2 separate regions of the Homo sapiens genome follow, and region 1 is linked to region 2. Evidence: fine-mapped expression QTL. A gene starts in region 2. The other region holds a variant in brackets. All regions are shown on one strand. Distances are from middle to middle. Region 1 holds the start of LOC112268029 (a long non-coding RNA gene). Region 2 holds the start of CSPP1 (centrosome and spindle pole associated protein 1).

The links. PIP is the estimated chance that this variant, and not a neighbour inherited with it, causes the effect.
Region 1: its variant is fine-mapped to the expression of CSPP1 in monocytes after LPS (Fairfax 2014, PIP 0.95).

The regions. Positions count from the first base shown.
Region 1 is chr8:66,179,443-66,189,440 of GRCh38, reverse strand. LOC112268029 (a long non-coding RNA gene) reads left to right here and starts at 2,793. Exons shown (of 4, transcript XR_002956713.2): 1 at 2,793-2,880; 2 at 6,450-6,550; 3 at 7,560-7,618; 4 at 9,481-9,555. It overlaps LOC124901954 (a long non-coding RNA gene), which reads right to left and starts at 3,925. Exons shown (of 2, transcript XR_007060948.1): 1 at 2,548-3,925; 2 at 480-609. RefSeq lists an enhancer at 2,367-2,977. The variant TATCTATCA/A (reference allele first, on the strand shown) is at 5,859.
Region 2 is chr8:67,059,781-67,069,865 of GRCh38, reverse strand. It overlaps CSPP1 (centrosome and spindle pole associated protein 1), which reads right to left and starts at 5,474. Exons shown (of 31, transcript NM_001382391.1): 1 at 5,328-5,474. COPS5 (COP9 signalosome subunit 5) reads left to right here and starts at 7,733. Exons shown (of 8, transcript NM_006837.3): 1 at 7,733-8,012. The coding sequence starts at 7,870. RefSeq lists silencers at 5,331-5,518, 5,457-5,596 and enhancers at 7,527-7,796, 7,977-8,066.

The DNA.
Region 1 (9,998 bases), 880 kb after region 2:
AGAATGGTAGGCTTGGAGGACCTGAGATTAGACAGAGTTGCCACCTTCAACAGTACCAAGCAACACATCATTACCCCAACAACAACGACAAATGTTTATTGAATACTTATAACTAGGCCCTGAGTGCACTATCTCATTTACTCCCACAAGAGAAACAAATAAGGGGACTTACATTTTATACTGGTTTGACAAAAAAAAAAAAAGGAAATGAGTTTGGAAAATTTAAATAAATTGCCCAAGGTCACCCAGCTAGAAAGCAAGAGTCAGACCTGTATTCAGGTAGCTTGACAAATGTCATACTTAGAAGTCTAGTGTGTCCCCACAGAAAAGTGTTGTAAAGCTGCTTTGAAGTGCTTTGTTTTTAGTGAAATATTTAAGTAAAGATATTAGAACAAATTCCATTACAGACAAGAATCAGATATGCTGCTTACCTTAATCAGTTCGGGCTGCCAAAAAAAAAAAAAATACCATAGACTAGGTGGCTTCAATAACAAACATTTATTTCCCACAGTTCTGGAGGCTGGGACATCCAAGATCAAGCTGCCAGTGGATCCAGTGTCTGGCGAGGGCCTTCTTCCTAGTTTGCAGATGGATGACTTCTCACTGTATCTTCACATAGGCAAGAGGAAGAGAGATCATCTCTTCTGTCTCTTTTTATAAGGGCACTAATCCCACTCATGGGGTTTCCACCCTCATGACCTAATTACCTTCCAAAGGCCCCACCTCCAAATACCATCACATTGGGGATTAGGCTTCAACATATGAATTTTGGGGACACACAAACATTTAGTCCAAGGCACTGTCCTACTTCAAAAAGCAGAATAGCACTTTTATAGAATAAATCTATCAGGTTATATAATTGTATTTCTCCATTCAAATAAAAAACATCCCTTTATTACAAGTATCATTTTCTCTGGAAAGATAAAAGTACATTAGCACAAGGCAGAACTTTATAGCTATTAGGAATTACAGTACAAAGAAAACAAGTTGAAAAATGAGGTGAGGGTCAAATATGTATCTATATTTAACTTTATATAAATTGGAGAATTAAACATCACTGCTGCTTTGCGCGGTTAAGTCTTTTCCTATTATCCTGGCAATGTTGTTGCTCAGATCACTCCTAAAATGCAAAAAGAATAGTGACTGTGGAAAATCAGATCCTTTCTTTTTCAGACATAGGTTTCCCACAATCACACTTCAAGGACTCATTGGCTTTCACAGTTATAAGACCATCTTGAATTGATGTAGCCTTTCTCCTAAGTAGGACACACATAGTCAATCCCCAACAACAAATATGTACCATGCATAAGCAGTATATTAGGATTCATGGACTAAAAGAAGTGGGAGGTAAGTTCATAAATGAACTGGAGGACAGACAGATAAACACACACACGATCAAAAATAACTAGCTCTCAAAATGGAAAAGAATGTTCTACAGATGGATAACAGAAGCCTTGAAGATGAAAAGATCTTGTTCCAAGGTTTGCGAAAGGTCTGAACCCACAACCTGTAACATCTTTGAAATCCACAGCTCCTGAATGTTGGCCTCCCAAGTTTCTGTCCACCTCTGTAGCCCTCATTGCTTGCTCTTTCTTGAATAACTGAGTTTCCCTTATGAAAAGCCCAACTTCATCCATTGCAACCAATTTTGTCTAGGACACGCCTGCCTACTCTAAGAGGGTTCTCCTTTGCAAGGTAGGTCCATGGATTTCCACTGGGCTACATTTCTGTAAAGACCAACTCCTTCCTCTGACCAGGAACTTTATAGCTATTAGGAATTAAAGTACAAAGAAAACAAGTTGGAAAATAAGGTGAGGCTCAAATATGTATCTATATTTAACTTTATATGAATAGGGGCATTAAACATCACTGCTGCTTAGGGCCGCTAAGTCTTTTTCTATTATCCTGACAATGCTGTTGCTCAGATCACTCCTAAAATGCAAAAAGAATAGTGAATGTGGAAAATCAGATCCTTTCTTTTTCAGACATAGGTTTGCCATAATCACCCTTCAAGGGTGATTATGCAAACAGAGTTGACCATTTTATGCATGGTAAGCAGAGGTTTGGCAGCTTCTTGTTTGAAGGTGACCTTTCCCAGGGCAGGTAATCCTCAGAAGCAGTGAAAACAGACAAGTTTCCATACCCTGGGACCCTCTCTTCAAAGGCAAACAGTGACATTTAAAATTTTCTCCTTGGAGTGGTAGAAAATTACTAGTAGCTCTAATCATGAACTTAAATATCAAATGGTAAAGAAAAAAAAGTCTAGCTGGACTCCTCATAAAATGCCTTTGGGCTTATTATATTTCCCAGCTAGTCCAATGATATACATGTTCTGTGGTCAAATGAGTCTGGGAAATGCTAAAGACTTAGGGATTTACACTGCTGAATAAAAATTTAAAAACACTAACAAATTCTGCAGTAAAATATGAATTTAGGTTTTCTTTAACTTTTCCCTTCCCTTTTTATGACACCAGCAACATTCCTAGGAGGCTTCTTTGGGAAGGAACTCTTTCTTCAGAGTTAAGTGATGTTCATGAATATAAATACCTGTTTGGGGGTGCCTGGTTGATGAATTTCTTTTTTCTGAGCAACAATTGTAAGATGATTAGTTCCTGTAAATTGTCTTTCATGACAGAAAGTTCACACACATCCTTTCACTGCCCTCCATCCATTACCTGGAGTCTCAAACAGAACAATCAATGTATTATGATGTAAATAGAAAGGGCAATCGTGTCTGTCAAGACCAGGGCTTGTAAGAGAAGCAGAAACGTGCTGGTTTTCTGATGCTCTGAGTCATCTTCCCAGGGTCAGTTACTTCTCAACTTATGGAAAAATAGATGCACAGGTAACAAAGTCCTTGCCATTTTCTCAGGAAAGGAGGTAAGACACTCAGTGATGACTCATGGGTGCTGACAGAATTTTTGATTGATGGGGAACTTTCCCCACCAAACCGTGGACAGCGATGTGGCTGCCCACTGGTAGAGAGTCCTGGGCTCCTGGGATGCTGCCCTTGCCTTCCGCACCTCCTGTCATCCTGGGCCTGTGATGCTCATTCTGCAGAGGCCCAAGGCTAATAACCCAAAGACCATAAGTCTCTTTTCTGCCTTCTTGCCCCACCAATGTACCCTCCATACTGCATTCAGAGGGGTCTTTCCAAAATGCTTGTGTGTTTACCTCTCATTTCTATGAGACTCCATTAAAATGATAGTATAAACCCAAATGATGAAAATAACAGGATAACGTAAGCAAGTGAGAGGGTTTAGCAAACTTCTGAAATAATGAGAGCAGAGAAGATGGTGTTTGAGGAAGAAAGGGAGAGAAAGCAGCTGTAAGGGGTCCACAAAGGGACAGGAAGGAGGAGGACAGAGAAGATGCTGTGTCTCCAGAGGAAAATGCAGATGAAGAGGCTGTAGGAGGCAGGCAGCTGAGGGAGGAGTCCATCTGCAGAGCCTAGGAGGGGCTCAAGGCTCAGAACCTCCAAGTCTCGCCAAAGACAGGAGTGAGAAAAGGGTCAAAAATACGGAGAATACCTGAAAGTTTATATATGGAAGAGTCAACCTCTCCACCAACTTTTCTCATCCCATGTGAAGAATGCCAGACATTCAAATGTCTGCCTGTTAGGCAACAAGCAAATAAAGAAATAAACATTGCCAGGTATACTGTTATTGGCCTAAATGTGTCTCCTAGATGTAGAAAAATTCACATGTTGAAGTCCTAACTTCTCATATTTCAGAATGTAACTGTATTTGGAAACAGAGCCTTTAAAGAGGTAATTAAGGTTAAATTAGGTCATATGGGTTATCCCTAATACAATATGGCTGATGTCTTTGTAGGCAGAGAAGATGGAAGCAGGGACATGCACAGAGGAAAGGCCGTGTGAAAGCACAGGGAGAAGATGGCCAACCACAAGCCAAGGAGAGAGGCCTGGGAAGAAAGCAACTCTGTTGACACTTTGATCTTGGACTTCTAGCCTCCAGAAGGGAGAAAATAAATTTCTGCTGTTTAAGTTATCCAGTCTGGTATTTGCTATGGCATACTCAGAAAACTAATACATACATTTTTCTTAAATAAAATTGAATGGCTACAGAGAGGAATTCTCTACAATATGACATTCATGGGTATCCCAAGTAAAGACTAGCTCACCATGTGATCACCCTGGAAGGAAGGCTGCTTGGCGAGAAGCAGGCTCCTTACCCTGCATATAGAGTTCTTCATCAACTTTGTACTGAATAATTATTAAACATGAGGGTGCTACCAATCATACACAGGGTCGCCTTCAGGGATTTCACAAAGATCTCCAGCATAAAATTGAGAAATTAAGATAAATAAAGATTTTTAAATGACCACAGATGGAAGAGATAATTCAGGGAAAGAAAGAAAACTTAGAAACCTTCTAGTTAACATTCTTAAAGAAATAGGAGAGAACATTCCACTGTAAAGCAAGAACAGGAGTTATTAAAAAGGAATGGAGAAAGAATAAAAAGTCTGGAGGTTGAATATACAGTTGTAAAATGAAAGTAACTGAAGAGCTGGAAGATATTGAAGAATATCTTAGAAAGCAGAATCGCAAACTAAAAGTTCTAACATGACAGAAAATAGTAAACACAGATGGCCAATAGAGGGGAGAACATCTCATAACAGAAATCCCTAAAAAGAAAGAATAGAGAAAATGGAAAAAATTATAATATAAATAATACAGGAGGTTTTTTTCACCATTGAAGAGTAAGAACCTCAAAATTAAAATGAGTACATGAAAAAAAGACCCAAAGACCATTCTAAAATTTCAGAACATCAACAAAAAAAGAAGAGACTAAAAGCTTCAAGAGAGAATAAGAAAAAAGGTCCTATGAAAAATGAGAATCAGGCTGGGCATGGTGGCTCACTCCTGTAATCCCAGCACTTTGGGAGGCTGAGGTGGGTGGATCACTTGAGGTCATGAGTTCAAGACCAGCCTGGCCAACATGGTGAAACTCCATCTCTACTAAAAATACAAAAATTAGCCAGGCATGGTGGCACATGCCTGTATTCCCAGCTACTTGGGAAGCTGAGGTAGGAGAATCGCTTGAACCTGGGAGGCAGAGATTGCAGTGATTTGAGATCGCACCACTACACTGTCCAGCGTAGGCAGCAGAGTGAGACTCCATGAAAAAAAAAGAAAGAAATAAAAGGAAAATTAGAATGATACTGGATTTCTTATCAGCAGCACTGGATAATACAACACAAGAGAATAATACTTTAAGTTCTAGAAGAGAATTATATTTAACTTGAAATTATATACCTTGGTAAAGCATCACTCAAATATCTGGGTAAAATATAACAATTTTCAGGAATGCAAGGAGTCAGAAAACATGCTTCTCATACATCCTTTCCTAGAAAGTTACCGGAGGATGTTCTCCAGCAAAATAAAATTCAGAAATCAAAAGGGAAAAAGTCCTGTGATTCCGGACAGGGAATTCAATCCAGGGAAGAAGAAAAGAGAAGTCCCAGGAAGAAACCTATGCATCAGATTTAGAAAGTAACTAGTTTGAAAGCAGCAGGTTAGCATGCTCAAGGATCAAGGTCTTAAAAAGAGGGGGAGGACTTAATAGATTACTTATCATGATTGAAAATTTGAAAAAATATGAGAACAAAATTAAGGCAGTTCGTAATTCTAGGAAAAAACCAAACTGGGATTATAAAAAATATAAAAGTGTCAATTGAAAATTGTAGAAAAAAAAACAAGATAGGAAATGTAATCAGAGTCTATGATCTTATTCTTCAGTGAACAACTTTCATAGTCAATAATTAAAAACTATATTGACTTCCTACTTTTAGAATCTATCTATCTATCTATCTATCTATCTATCTATCTATCTATC[TATCTATCA/A]TCATCTGTCTATCTATATCTATCTAGAGCTTCTTGGCCCTTTGGCTAAGATCAAGTGTAGAATCAATTATAGTAAAAGCATAAAAGCATGGGAGATTTAACTATGATTATAAAAATAATTAACGGACAATCTAGAAGTAGAAGTATAGATGAAAGAGACTGAGAGATCAAGGTGCAGGAGGGTGTCTGAAAAGTTGAAGGGATAAATAATCTCATCTTACAATCTGGGAGTTAAGAGATATTGTTTATATTTGAAGACTCAAGAAATAATTCTGTGGGTATATTACTTAAAAGTGCAAGGGTAAGATGAAAAAGAATAAAAAGCAGGTCATTAGGGCAGTGATCAACAATGAAGAATGAATAGAAAATTTGGCACATATTGATGCAATACCATGCAATAAAAAAAGGATTTCACTTGGATATAGGAAAATGCTTGAGATATAATTTTAAATGGAAAAAAGTAGATTATAAAATTTTAACTATAAAATGTTATTTAGTTATGTCTGGATAATATGTACAGTTTATGGGTAATTTTTATACTTCATTCATTCAACAGATTTTCTGCATTTCATTCATTCAACAGGCTTACTGGAAATCTACCATGTTTGGGGCAAGAGAAATGGATATGGCAACTTACAAAGATGATCAAAGCCCTGCTACACAGTTTACTGTCCAGCAAAGGAGGTACATATTGTACCAGTAACTATAACAAAATGTGAGCTTTACAATGAAGGACATTCATGCTATTAGGAAAATATGAAGCACAGGTGCTGAACCTAATATAGGAATCTGGGGAAGATTTCTTCAACAAATTATTTTGCAATGAATTAATTAATTAATGTAAATTGACAAATAAAAATTGTATATGTTTATGGTGTATGACATGTTTTGATATATGCGTATATTGTGGAATGGCTAAATCAAGTTATCAACATATCCATTACCTCACTTACTTACCAATTTCTGGTGATGAGAACATTTAAAATTTACTCTCTCAATTATTTTAAATGTTAAAATGAGAGTTTTTTTTTTAAGCAGAGATTCAGTATTAAGAACATGGTGTTATCAAAATTATGATTATGAGCTCAGGAAAAATGCTCAAGGGAAACAACAAAATATTAATTATCTGTGATGATCTTTAGATTCAGATATTCTGAGGAATTTTATATTCTTTATGCTTTTCTGATTTTTCTAAGTTTTCTGCAAAGAGCACATATGGCTTTGATAATCAGAAGAGACTAACAGAAGTTATTGTTGCCAGTGAAGCAGTTAGATATTTTGCTGTTTGAGGGCCTTTCCTCAGTCCTCCTGTGGAAGCAGAAGGCAGTTACTTAATCTATCTAAAGAACAGTTACAAACAATTACCAAACCACCTGTCCACCCTAGGCATTTCTGAAGGCTCTCATTGGAAACAGTAGATTCATTTCAACAAATGTTTCTGTTAGCCAACTTGGAGATGGTGTTTGTTCACCACGAGCTGTGCTAATAGAAGCTTGTGAAGGTACAAGGTGATACAAGTGACAAAAATATGCCCACTAGTTACCTATTATTTCTGATATTTCTTTATTAGACTGTTGTGTTGGCTCTGTTTTAATTTACCTATACCGTATATTATGTAGCCATTGAAAAATATGATTTAAAACATGAAGTAATCCCTGTTTTTGTGCCCATGTTTCTTGGATTGTGTTTTTAGGTTCTAAAAGCATTGAAATTGATTCTCCAATGACTCCTTTCCAGAAGTTATTCTTACATGTAAGATCAGATCTGTCAGTGGTGATTTCTATGTATTTGGATATTTAGTTTATAGCACATTTAAGTTATCTGCATTATGTTATTTCTCAAATCATAGATCTATATTATAATTTTAAGAATCCCTTTCACCCTCCATACTGTATCCAAAGATCACTTTTTTCAAAGGTCACCTAGGCAGAATAATCAAATTAATGCTTTTAATTTGGTAATACTGAAAAGTAAATTGCAATGTATGCACACACAGATTGAAAATCAGGTGCCACAGACATGAGCATGCACAGAGAATTTCTGCATTCTCATGCCTTAGTTTATCAAATAAGGAAAATGTATAAAAAGCTACTCCACAATTGGTGTGTGAATATATTACTTTATCTAAATGCATCTTCTCAGGCCAGGCATGGTGATTGATGCCTATAATTCCAACTGCTCAGGAGTCTGAGGATCGCTTGAGTCCTGGAGTTCTAGGCTGCAGTGAGTATCACAGTGCCTTCAGCCTGGGCAAGAAAGTGAGATTCTAGCTCTAAAATATTTTAAAATTCATCTTTTCACCTCAGTTTGTGTGCCTCTGCTGGAAAAGAAAGTCCAAAGGTTATTGTTACATTATGCAAATAATATGGGCTTGCAATCAAAAGAGCTGGTTCCTAATTCTCACTTTACCACTAACTTGCTGAGTGACTTCAGGTAAGTCACTTAACTTCTCTGGTTCTCATTTAAACCAAGTGATCTCTTTAAGTCATTTCTAATGTGAAAACTGCGTGATTTAATGAGATATACATTTTGGATAATGATATGGTTAGATTGTGTCCCCACCCAAATCTCATCTTGAATTGTAGCCCCCATAATTCCCACGTGTTGTGGGAGAGACCTGGTGGGAGGTAACTGAATCATAAGGGTGGGTTGTTCCCATGCTGTTCTTGTGATAGTAAATAAGTCTCATCAGATCTGATGGTTTTAGAAAGGGGAGTTCTCTTTCACATGCTCTCTCTTGCCTGCCACCATGTAAGACGTGTCTTTGCTTCTCCATTGCCTTCTGCCATGATTGTGAGGCCTCCCCTACCATGTGAAAATGTGAGTCCATTAAACTGCTTTCCTTTATAAATTACCCAGTCTCAGGTATGTCTTTATTAGCAGTGTGAGAACAGACAAATACAGATAAATTGTGGCTGTGCATAGCTTCTCTTCCTCTGGGGTTCAGGAACATTTTTTTCCTTACTCCCTAGTTGGAGCCACTTTGGCTCTATTAATGACTTACCCCAAGAAAACCTCACAGCAAGGACTCAACAGTGATGAGGGAGCTATACTAAAACAATATCCCCCAGATAGCCCAATGGGAGAGAGATTTGTATGGGCATGGGTTTAGTCAGAGCCCAAAACTTGTTGTGTCTTCTCTGGAAGAACCTCCCAGACCTCCCCAGCTAAACTCATAACCACATCCCTTTCCTAGTTTATCTTCTGTGTCCATTTACTGCACTGAAACTTCCTATTCCAAGTCAACGTTTCACCTCCAGATTGACATCCAAGCTGAAATCTGCTAACAGGGTCAGAAAACAGTTCATAAAGGAAAGTAAGCAAAAATGTTGAACCCATTCCAGCTTAATAAAAAAAAAAAAAGCCCACAATAACAAAATCTAAGGTTCTGTGTGCTTTCCTACCAATATAAAACACAGCTTTCTCCCAGAAACTCAACCATTTTCCATAATCATGATCTTCTATTAACAACTCACATCTTTCCAAGTAGGCACATTCTCTCTGTTCTCTTATGTCAAAAGTACATAACATGGTGCAGTGATCCAACTATGGGCTGGCTTCTCTGCAAACTGTCAACATTTCTCTCCCTGCCTTCCCTTTGTTCCTAAGAGCAGTTGTGGATTGGTATAGACCCAAAATGGAAGTTGAAATATGCATTGCATCATTTGTCACATTAGCTACAAAGGAAGCAGCAGAAGTAATCAGAAATGAGGAGCAGGAAATTTCCGATAAACAACTCTGATGGTTATCTGGAAGCTGAATTGAATCACAGGCACAAGAACTTGGAATTGCATTTTGAATTGCAGAATTAGAGGTAACTGCCTCCCACCTATATGATAGTGTCAATTAATCAAAAATTGAATATAGTTTTACAGGCTTAGCATTCCATTCCATTCTGCGACATGTCAGAGAGCATTTATTTATTTAACAGGCTGACATGAAGCACATTTGGATTTGGAAAAAGAAATAATTAAAAAGAACCACCCTGGGTGGCCCAGATGTGGATACTATTATGGATGTTGATAGTATTTGGAGGTGAAATGAACGAGTTTTTTTTTACAGACTCAATATTGACCAATGAAAACATGTAACTAATGAATTTAGCCCTGTAGTCAAGCAGTTTAAGCCTTTT
Region 2 (10,085 bases):
CAATATGGCGAAACCCCGTCTCTACTAAAAATACAAAAATTAGCCAGGCATGGTGGTATATACCTGTAATCCCAACTACCGGGGGACACTGAGGCAGGAGAATCGCTTGAACCAGGCAGGTGGAAGTTGCAGTGAGCCGAGATCATGCCACTGCACTCCAGTCTGGGCAACAGAGTGAGACTCCATCTCAAAAAAAAAAAAAAGAAAGAAAAGAAAAAAAAGAAATGTCATTTATCTAAAAAGAAAAAAAAAACAGTAACATGCCACCTTCACATGGAACTAAGGTTTCCATACCACCTAATAACAATTATTAATTTAACATGTTCATTTACATGTTGTTCTAACCAGGCTTTGAAAGATCTCCCTCTTGAATTTATAGATGCTTATCTTTCTCTTTACTGTAATTATTTAACATTATAAATTATAGAACTGATTTTAACTTACAGTAATCAAAAGTACAAAAAGTACAAATAAAACATACTTTTAAACAACCATAGTAAATATAGCATATGCCATAACTAAAACATAAGATTTATCCGAGATATAAGTACATTTCTAATCATTTCTAAATTTTTCCTGTATCTAATCTGATTAGATTATAATGACTTTAATATTAAAGAGTCAAAGACACTAATGAGCTTTCTCCTGGTAATGATCTCCAGCCAAAGAACACCAGGAAAACTACCACAGTTAAGTTGGATGTACTACTCATTGCATTAAGGAATGCACGGAGAACACACACCATGGGGAACCCTGTGGTATCGTGGTAAGAGGGTATTGGAAAAGACTTATATGTGTTGGGTGATTTGGGGGAAGGCTTAATTTGAGGAAGTGGAGCTTTGCTCAGGATTGAACACTGTTAGAAGTGGGGTTAATTCTATGATGGTACCACTCAATAAATCTAAAATATAGGGGGAGGCTAATGCTGTAACTGGTAAACAAGCAGTAGTCATTCACATCAGCTGGGAAAGGGAATGTTTGGTATCTCGGTTCTTGGACAATATTTACGTTTTGTCTGTGTTTGGAGACACTGATGGAATGTTTTTGTCTTGATCCATCATAGACACAGAGCGGCCTTATCTGATGTTGACATTCTGTACAATAGTTTATCTTCAACAGAAAAACACAAAGTTACTGTGAATGCCAGGCTAGTTTCTAGCAATACCAGTTTCTAGATATCACGGCCACTTTTCTTTTTCTCACTCCTAAAAGCATGTGGTAACTTACAGAAAACATATTTCAACTACACAATTATTCAAGAATTACTTGGTGAATCACAGAGACTGGGTTAATAAATATGGCATAGGTACAATATAGAGTAAGAAAGTTTATAATTTAAGGATTAAGTTGCCAAAAATAAATCAGCTGAAAGAAACCTAAATGAGATTATTTATATATGACACTCTACAATATAAAGTCACTCACAACTTTTTTCAAGACATCATGGCCAAGTATTATTTCTCCAGTAGCTGTGTACATAGTATGTAGATGATAAACAGTTTTCAGGAAAATAGTTTAATTGAAAGAACTGAGTTTGAAATATACTTCTATCACTTATTGATCTCAACATGAATGACCTCAAGCATGTTCCTTAACTGCTCTATGCCTAATCTATAAAACAGAAATATCATTTATTCTAGTATATTATGAAGAAAAAAGAAAATAATGCATATAAAAATTATGACAGAGAACCTAACACTTAGAAATCAACAGATCAGGCCAGGCGCAGTGGCCCATGCCTGTAATCCCAGCACTGTGGGAAGCCAAGGAGAGTGGATCACCTGAGGTTAGGAGTTTGAGACCAGTCTGGCTAACACAGCAAAACCCATCTCCACTAAAAATACAAAAATTAGCCAGGCATGGTGGCACACCTCTGTAGTCCCAGCTACTCAGGAGGCTGAGGCAGGAGAATTGCTTGAACCCAGGAAGCAGAGGCTGTAGTGAGCCCAGATCACGCCACTGTACTACAGCCTCGATGACAGAGCAATACTCTGTCAAAAAAAAAAAAAAAAGAAATCAACAGATCAATTCTTTTATTGTTTATGGTTGTATCTTTACAGTCTTTGCATATATGAAGATTTACCTCTTAAAAACAGAGCCTGCAGCCGCGCGTTGTGGCTCACACCTGTAATCCCAACACTTTGGGAGGCCGAGGCGGGCGGATCACGAGGTCAGGAGATCAAGACCATCCTGGCTAACACGGTGAAACCCCGTCTCTACTAAAAGTACAAAAAATTAGCCAGGCTTGGTGGCAGGCGCCTGTAGTTCCAGCTACTCAGAAGGCTGAGGCAGGAGAATGGAGTGAACCTGGGAGGCAGAGCTTGCAGTGAGCTGAGATCGTGCCACTGCACTCCAGCCTAGGTGACAGAGCGAGACTCTTGTCTCAAAAACCAAAACAAACAAACAAACAAACAAAAAAAACAGAGCCTGCAAACGTAAAGTATGCTGAGATTTAAATAATCAATAATTGATACTTGGTTATCATAATCCACACCAACATCTCTAAACCTTAACCTTTGGCTCTTTATGCTTATCATATAGATATAAGCAGACCAGAGCATACCCATTCTGCTAAGTCTAGTCAAATCCAATAAACAAACAGAACCCAGTTAAAACTGAGTTTGCCCAATTCCTTCTCCCAAATCCATCAGTCACAAAAAGATGGGAAAATGTTGCTCCTATCCTTTTCCCTCTCAAGGAGTGGAGTACAAATTTCCTCCCCACTATGGGAGCATGAGAAATGGAAAATGACTTCCCTCCTAAAGCATGACATTGTGCTAGAGGCTGGCGTAGTCAAAAATATAAAATGTGGCTGGGCACCGTGGCTCACGCCTGTAATCCCAGCACTTTGGGAGGCCAAGACGGGCGGATCGCTTGAGGTCAGGAGTTTGAGACCAGGCTGGCCAACATGACAAAACCCCATCTTTACTACGAATAAAAAAATTAGCTGGGTGTAGCAGGAGGCAGAACCATTGCTTGAAAATGGGAAGCAGAGGTTGCAGTGAGCCGAGATCACACCACTGCACTCCAGCATGGGTAACAGAGTGAGACTCTGTCTCAAAAAACAAACAAACAAACAAACAAAAAACAAATATATATGTGTGTATATATGTGTGTGTGTATATATATGTATATATATAAACATGATTCTTGTCCTCAAATTTGGACAAGATAATGCCCCCTGCTACAGAGGCTGACAGGGGTTTAGGAGCTGAATGTGAGATATCCATAATGGATACACCGGAGATACGAAGAAATCAATCTGAAAATGTCTACAACTCAGAATAGAACCCAGGCTGGAAATAAAGATCTAGCAGTGTTTAAAATAATCATTAAGGCTGTGGGAGAAGAGTTTTGTCTGGAAAAAGAGACCCTAGAGTAGGGGAACAGGACCTAGAACAGGTGTCAAAGTGTGATAACATGTGCGGTGGGGGGAGGGGCCAGTGAAAGAGCTTTAGAAGAAAGGGAGGGACAAAGTGACCAGGACAATGTTTCTCACTTCTCATCCATCCAGAGATCCATCTACCGAATGAAAGGTTCTCCATCTTCCTCCTGGCAGATGGCATCCACATGAGCAACTTCCTCCCATGGGTACACCAAAATTTTGACAAATTTCCCTAAATATTGCTAAGATGTAAATACTGTTGCTGGGGGAAAGAGAGGGAGGCTGGGAGACAGGATACAAAGAGAGAGTGAATAAATATATAAAACCATGTTGAAGTCTTTCAGTAGCTATTAATAATACACCCTTAATGGTGATTAACGGCAGTAGCATAAATTAGCCTTTGGGTTATGCCAAATTGCTGAAACACTTGCTCAAACACCCTTGCCTGCCACTCAGGAAAGTACATCAGAACCTAAGTCAGAATGATGTTAAAAGGATAATCTGAAATCTGCTCAAATGTGTAACAGTTAATTCATATTTGTCTGAAAGCTTCATCTGAGAAAAACTGTACCGAAAGTAGCCTGTTTCAATTTACTCTGTCTAAACTCACCCACTCCCTCCCAGGCGGCCATCTGGCAGAAGACCCAAACTTGAACGGGCACAATGGCTCAGGGCCGTAATTCCAGCACTTTGGGAAGCCGAGGCAAACGGATCACTTGAGGTCAGGAGTTCGAGACCAGCCTGGCCAACAAGGTGAAACCCCCTTCTCTACTAATGCCACTGCACTCCAGCCTGTACAACAGAGCGAGACCCTGTCTCCAAAAACAAAACAAAACAAACAAACAAAAAAACTTGATCCTTGTGGAGCATTTCAGCAGACATTTAATCACCAGAAAGCTAGCGACCTCCTAGGGAGAAGAATGATATGGAGAAAAGAAAATACCTCAATAGCTTCCATGGAGCTTGTCAACATTACAAGTCATTCCTTCACACAGAATAAAGCCTAATTTAGGCTTTTTATAAATTCCTATCGGTTGCTTTTAAGCCCCTGCATTTTCCAAGGTGTTTGGAAAGTAGGTGATGGTTTACTTCAGAATTTAGTCTTCCCCGCAATCCTAGTTAAGCGTCTTAATCCTACAATCTTGAGAGCTAGCCTCTCTCAAAAGATGAGTCCCATTAATAACATGTACTGACAACTGGATTTGAGTCCCACATAAGATTCCTAAAATCAAGGCAGTTAGAAACAAGAGGTTCAAGCTCAAGCAGTCGGGCAATCACGGGGGGAAATACGGTCACAACAGTACGAGCTACGAGCTACGGTGAAGATTAAATAAGTTTTACTAGCAAAGCAGTGCGCACAAGCGCTCCCACGTTAACAATAACAAGCACCGAGGGGCAAGAAAGGCGCTCGGGGAGGCTTGACGGAGCAGGGGGGGCCTGGCCGTTGGGGAGAGAAGGCGCATGGGAACCAAGGAACCGCTCGCCCCCGGGCCCTGGAGGTGGCTGACTAGGAAGCGTCGTCAGGCAACCAGCTATCAACAACACCGCGGGCAGCAGCGACCGCAGTGGCCCAGGAATCCGGACCGTGTAACCAGGGAACCTCCCCGACCCCGGCAGCTGCAAGACCCCTGCTCACAGAACTCCCGCCCCCAACCCTCATAACTCGTAGTCACCGATGCCGGCCTCACGGCGGCGAAATCCCAACTCTCCACACCCTTAACTCGGGCACCTCCCCCACCGCACCCAGCCGCCACGAGACCCCCTGCCGACAAGAAACCCCACCCCCACCCCCAGATTCCAGAGCCTGTAACTCTGGCACGTCGCCGGCCTAGTTGCCTCGAGACCTACGCCCCGAGGGAGCCACTGCCCCTGCCCCCGCTCCGGGGCAGCGAATGCAGCCCCAGGACCCTCCACCCTCAACCTACACCACCCCAGGCCACACCTCGCCACTCACGCTCCCCATCCGCGGCTGGCTGACTCTTACTCAGGGGAGCGGGCTCGCGTCCGGGGAGACACACAGTGCTCTAGAGGATCGTCGCGGACCGAAGAGGTTACAGCGGCCACCTGGAGCGGGAACAGCATGACAGACCTCCGGGCCGGGGCTCCGCCCCTCAGGCCCAGCCCTCCGCTCGCCCTTCGCCAACCGCCGGGTACGGCCCCGCCCCCACTGCAGGCGGCCGCGCGGCAAGACATCGCCCCCTGCTGTCCTGGAGGCCGCATAGCTGCCCGCTGCTCTCGGTTCGCCAGTACGCTGGCCGGGGACTTGGTCAACTCGTTCTCCTGCTGTGCCCAGGGGCTATTAAACTGTGGGGGCCACTTCTCAGGCTAAATCTATTGCAGCCTCTCCAGCCTCCCATGCACCAGCCAGCTTAGGAACAGTGTAAGAGCCTGGAAAGAAAAATGGGGAGGGGTGGTAGTGAGAGGAAAAGTGTTGGCATACCTCTCAGGGCATTACTCCTAGCCCAGGAGTGTGGTCAACGTTGGGTCCTGGGCTTTCATTACCATTTTCAACATATTATTCAGTTCACCCCAATACAATCGCATATGGCCATATGCTACCACTAGAAAAGAGACCTCTAGTTTCCCAGGAGAGTGGAACTAAGGGTAGGTATTAATGTACTATTTTACCCTAAATTTCTTTGTAAGATGGTTTTAAAGGAAATTTTCTTCAACGGAAAGTCAGTGCCAAAACAGCAAGCTGTGGTGTGGATTCAATAATTCTAATGTTTTTGTCTTAACTGATTATTACAACGCATTGTAACAGTTATAGAAGCACCTACGGAGACTTACAGACATAATGGAAGGAATGGTAATTGGAGCGTCAAGAAAGAGTTCGTGGTCGATCTCACTGGACTGCATTTTTAAAGATTAATAGGAGTTCCCAGGCAGAAAATTTACGAAAGAGCGTTTCAAGCAATGCTGACCACATATGCAAAGCCAAAGTAAAGATATCTGCATTGCTAGAATGAAAAGTTTCAAGGGGGGACTAAAAAGAGATGAAGCTGGAAGAGGTGCATAGGGGCCAGGTTGTTAACAGCTGTGGTGCTATCTTTTCTTTTTTCTTCTTTTTTCTTTCTTTCTTTCTTTTTTTTTTTTTTTTTTTTTTTGAGACTGGCTCTGTCTAACAGGCTGGAGTGGCGCAATCTCGGATCACTGCAACTTCCGCCTCCTGGGTTCAAACGATTCTCCTGCCTCAGCCTCATGAGTAGCCGGGACTACAGGCGCACATCATCACGCCCGGCTAATTTTTTTTTGTATTTTTTTAGTAGAGACGGGGTTTCACCATGTTGGCCAGGCTGGTCTTGAACTCCCGACCTCAAGTGATCAGCCCGCCTCGGCTGCCCAAAGTGCTGGGATTACAGGCGTGAGCCACCGCGCCTGGCCTGTCATGCTATCTTTTCAGGAAATAAAAGAAAAAAAAATCTTGAACACCTATGCTAGGTGCTAGGAGATAAAACAAGGAACGCAGACCTGCTCCCTGTGTCTTGAAACTTAAAATCTTGCACGGATGGAAGAATGAGATGGAGAAAAAAGAAAACCTAAAACACGTGAACTAATAAAAAAATTAAACATTGTATTAACTGTAGGAAGAAAACAAACCAGTTACCCAGATTAATTACGCTTTGGGAACAAATGCGGTTCACAGGAGTGCCAAAGATTTAACTGTAACCTGTTACGAGAACTGAGTACTGGACATTTTCAGATCAGTAATGGCACATTATATATACGTAGATGTTAACTTTTACCAAAGCGCAAAAAAGCAATCAAGGAGTACCCACTGCCTCCTCGCATCGATAGAAAAAGCCCATCTGCAAGTGAAGTGCCAAGCCACCACGAGCCCGTTAGCTTTTACGCATGTACAGTGAGTCATCTTGAAGTAAACGGGAATGCCATGTTTATCTTCCTCTCAACCAGCTTCCAGAACGACTTTTAGCTCAGTTGTACAACAGACAGCCTTACCTTTTAGTCTTTCAACAAACTTATCTCATTTAAGGTACCTATACCCACACAAAAACACTTTCCGCCCTCCACATCCCGCTCTTAAGGCTCCAGCTACCTTTAATATGGCGGAGGCCGAGCCTGCGCATTAGAAGCAGAGAAGGCAAATACCAGTTTCTGGAATAACGTTACATGCCCTTCTTCCGGTGCGGAAGACTATACCACTCCCATACCCTATAACTTTGTTTGTTCTATTTCACACATATAATTTTCCGAGACAAGATGTTCTCATTTAAGCAACAAGAAGATTCGTCTCTCGCTATTACTGTAACTGCTGTTTATATCGTCATGTCCCGGAAAGGTCCCTGTCTTCCCTGAATGGTCTCTACCAACTTCACCTCCGGTTCTAGGTGTCATGGCTGCCCCAAGAGTCTAGGTAAGAGTTTGTTCCCGTGGTGCGGAGGGTCAAGGCCCACACCCGGAAACCTAGCGAGGTAAAGTTGCGTCTTGGTTGTAGAGACGACAACTTCTCCGCTTCCTCGGCGATGGCGGCGTCCGGGAGCGGTATGGCCCAGAAAACCTGGGAACTGGCCAACAACATGCAGGAAGCTCAGAGTATCGATGAAATCTACAAATACGACAAGAAACAGCAGCAAGAAATCCTGGCGGCGAAGCCCTGGACTAAGGAGTGAGGAGGTCCCTGGCGAGACGCAGGGGAGGGAAAGGGTGGCGGAGTTTAAGAGACCCAGAGGGAGAGGGAGGTGAAAGGGGTGAAGAGCTTTCACCGACTGGGAGGGGGACAGAATATGCGTCTTGGATCTGCAAGTAGAGCCTAAGCCCTCCGCTGGGGCTTTCACTCCCCTTTCTGTCGCTTTAATCCATTTGCCCCCGGGTGATGTAAGGGGAGAACAACAAGCGGTGATTTAAGTTGTCACTTCTGAACATCCGTATTGTCATATATGCCACACACCCTACCTTGAGCCCAGTGTCGACATGCACCTTGTTTGGGTCTTCAACTAATCCCAAACTGGGGATTGCAGCTGTTTTCAGAAATCGAGTCAGCAGCCCAAGGTCTCAAAAATAGCTATGAGCTATTTTCTTTTCTTTTTTTTTTAATAGAAATGGGTCCTCGCTGTGTTGCTCAGGCTGATCTCGAGCTTCTGCCTTCAAGCGATCCTCCCGCCTTCGCCTTCCAAAGTGCTGGGATTACAGGCGTGAGGCCTGGGCCTATAATAGTTTTTTGATTGCTGGTAATTATTTCGGAGGCACACGGAGGCTCTACTACCTGGTCTCTAAAATGTTACTCCACCAGTTCCCATAAGCCAGAAATTATAAAAATAGAGCTTAAGACCTTTTGCCCTTCAACAATATCCATTTTTCCCTGGGAGTGGTGACAAGTCGAGGGATCTTTACCCATAATATTTATCTTTTCCTGAGAGCATCTCCTGAGAGATTTCCTGCTATCAGGAAAAGATAATTATTACGGGTTATGTTTGAGAGTAAAAAGAGCACGAAAGCTAATGGTTAGATAGAAAGGAAAGCTGTGGTCAACAAGAGGACATACTTCTACTGCCTCACAGTTTTTTTTACAAGGCTAGCCTTGTCTCTCAGTATTCAGATTCCACAATGGTGAACTGCGGAAGCACCTAGCTAGAGATTTCCACGTCATTTAATTTTCATGACAACCCAGTACAGTATATCCATCCTTTTGTTACAAATTAAAAAACAAGCAAATACGTTATGTAATTTATGATCATACTGACATAAGTGAACTCTCAACTGAGCAATAGTCAGACCTAAGATCAAATCTCACAGCTGTCACTAACTAGTTGATTGACCTTAGGAAATTTACTTATCCATCTTCATTTGTCATAATATGGAAATAAGACCTACTTATTGGTATTGTCATAGAGATTAGGTGAGATAATGTATAAAAAGAGTCGTCTAGAATGTATGTAATAGGAGCACAGTAACTTGTCTTTCTTCTTTTCTCCAGTAAAGGGAGAAGCCAAGATTTCGATTCATGTCTTGACTTCCAACATGAGGTCTACACATTTTTCAGCTTTTGGTTGAAATCTGGCAAAGCTTAGGAATTAAATTTGGATTCTTTCTGTGGGCAGACATCTAAAAAGGCTTTGTAGAGACGTTGACTGACTGCTCTGTAAGGCTGCTTAAGTTGCTTGGTTATCTGCTTGCTTCTGTAACAGGCTGTGCATTTTAGGTTCGTGTACTCTTAAATATTTGGAAACTGTTGGCCTGCCTCACTGTCTAATTGTGGCTCTAATTATATTCATCCTAGCTGTCTTGGGCTGCATTAATGAGACCAAAATGTAATTTTATTCAAGAGTTTAATTCACTGATGACCAACTCTGAAATAGTGATCATAGGAGACTAGGATATTAGGGCTACTTTTTAATTTAAGGCTGATATAACAGGGAAGCCCACCCTTCAACACTCTGTTCTTTGAGAGTAGGGTTAAGAGACAGGTTAATAATGCTGATAACAGCTAGCACTTATTAGGGTTCTAGTATGTGTAAGGCACTAAGCACTTTATATACATTATTTCATTTATTTCATCCTAACAACAATTATGAATATCCCTATTTACAGAAAAGGAAACCTAGGCACAGATATTACAGGGTTGTCCCAATACCACAGCTAGGGAATGGCAATGTCAAGATTCAGACCTTAGCAGATGAATGTCAGAACCCACATTCTTAACCATTAGGCCAGAAGGTTAGGCCTCAGAACAGTTAGGCAC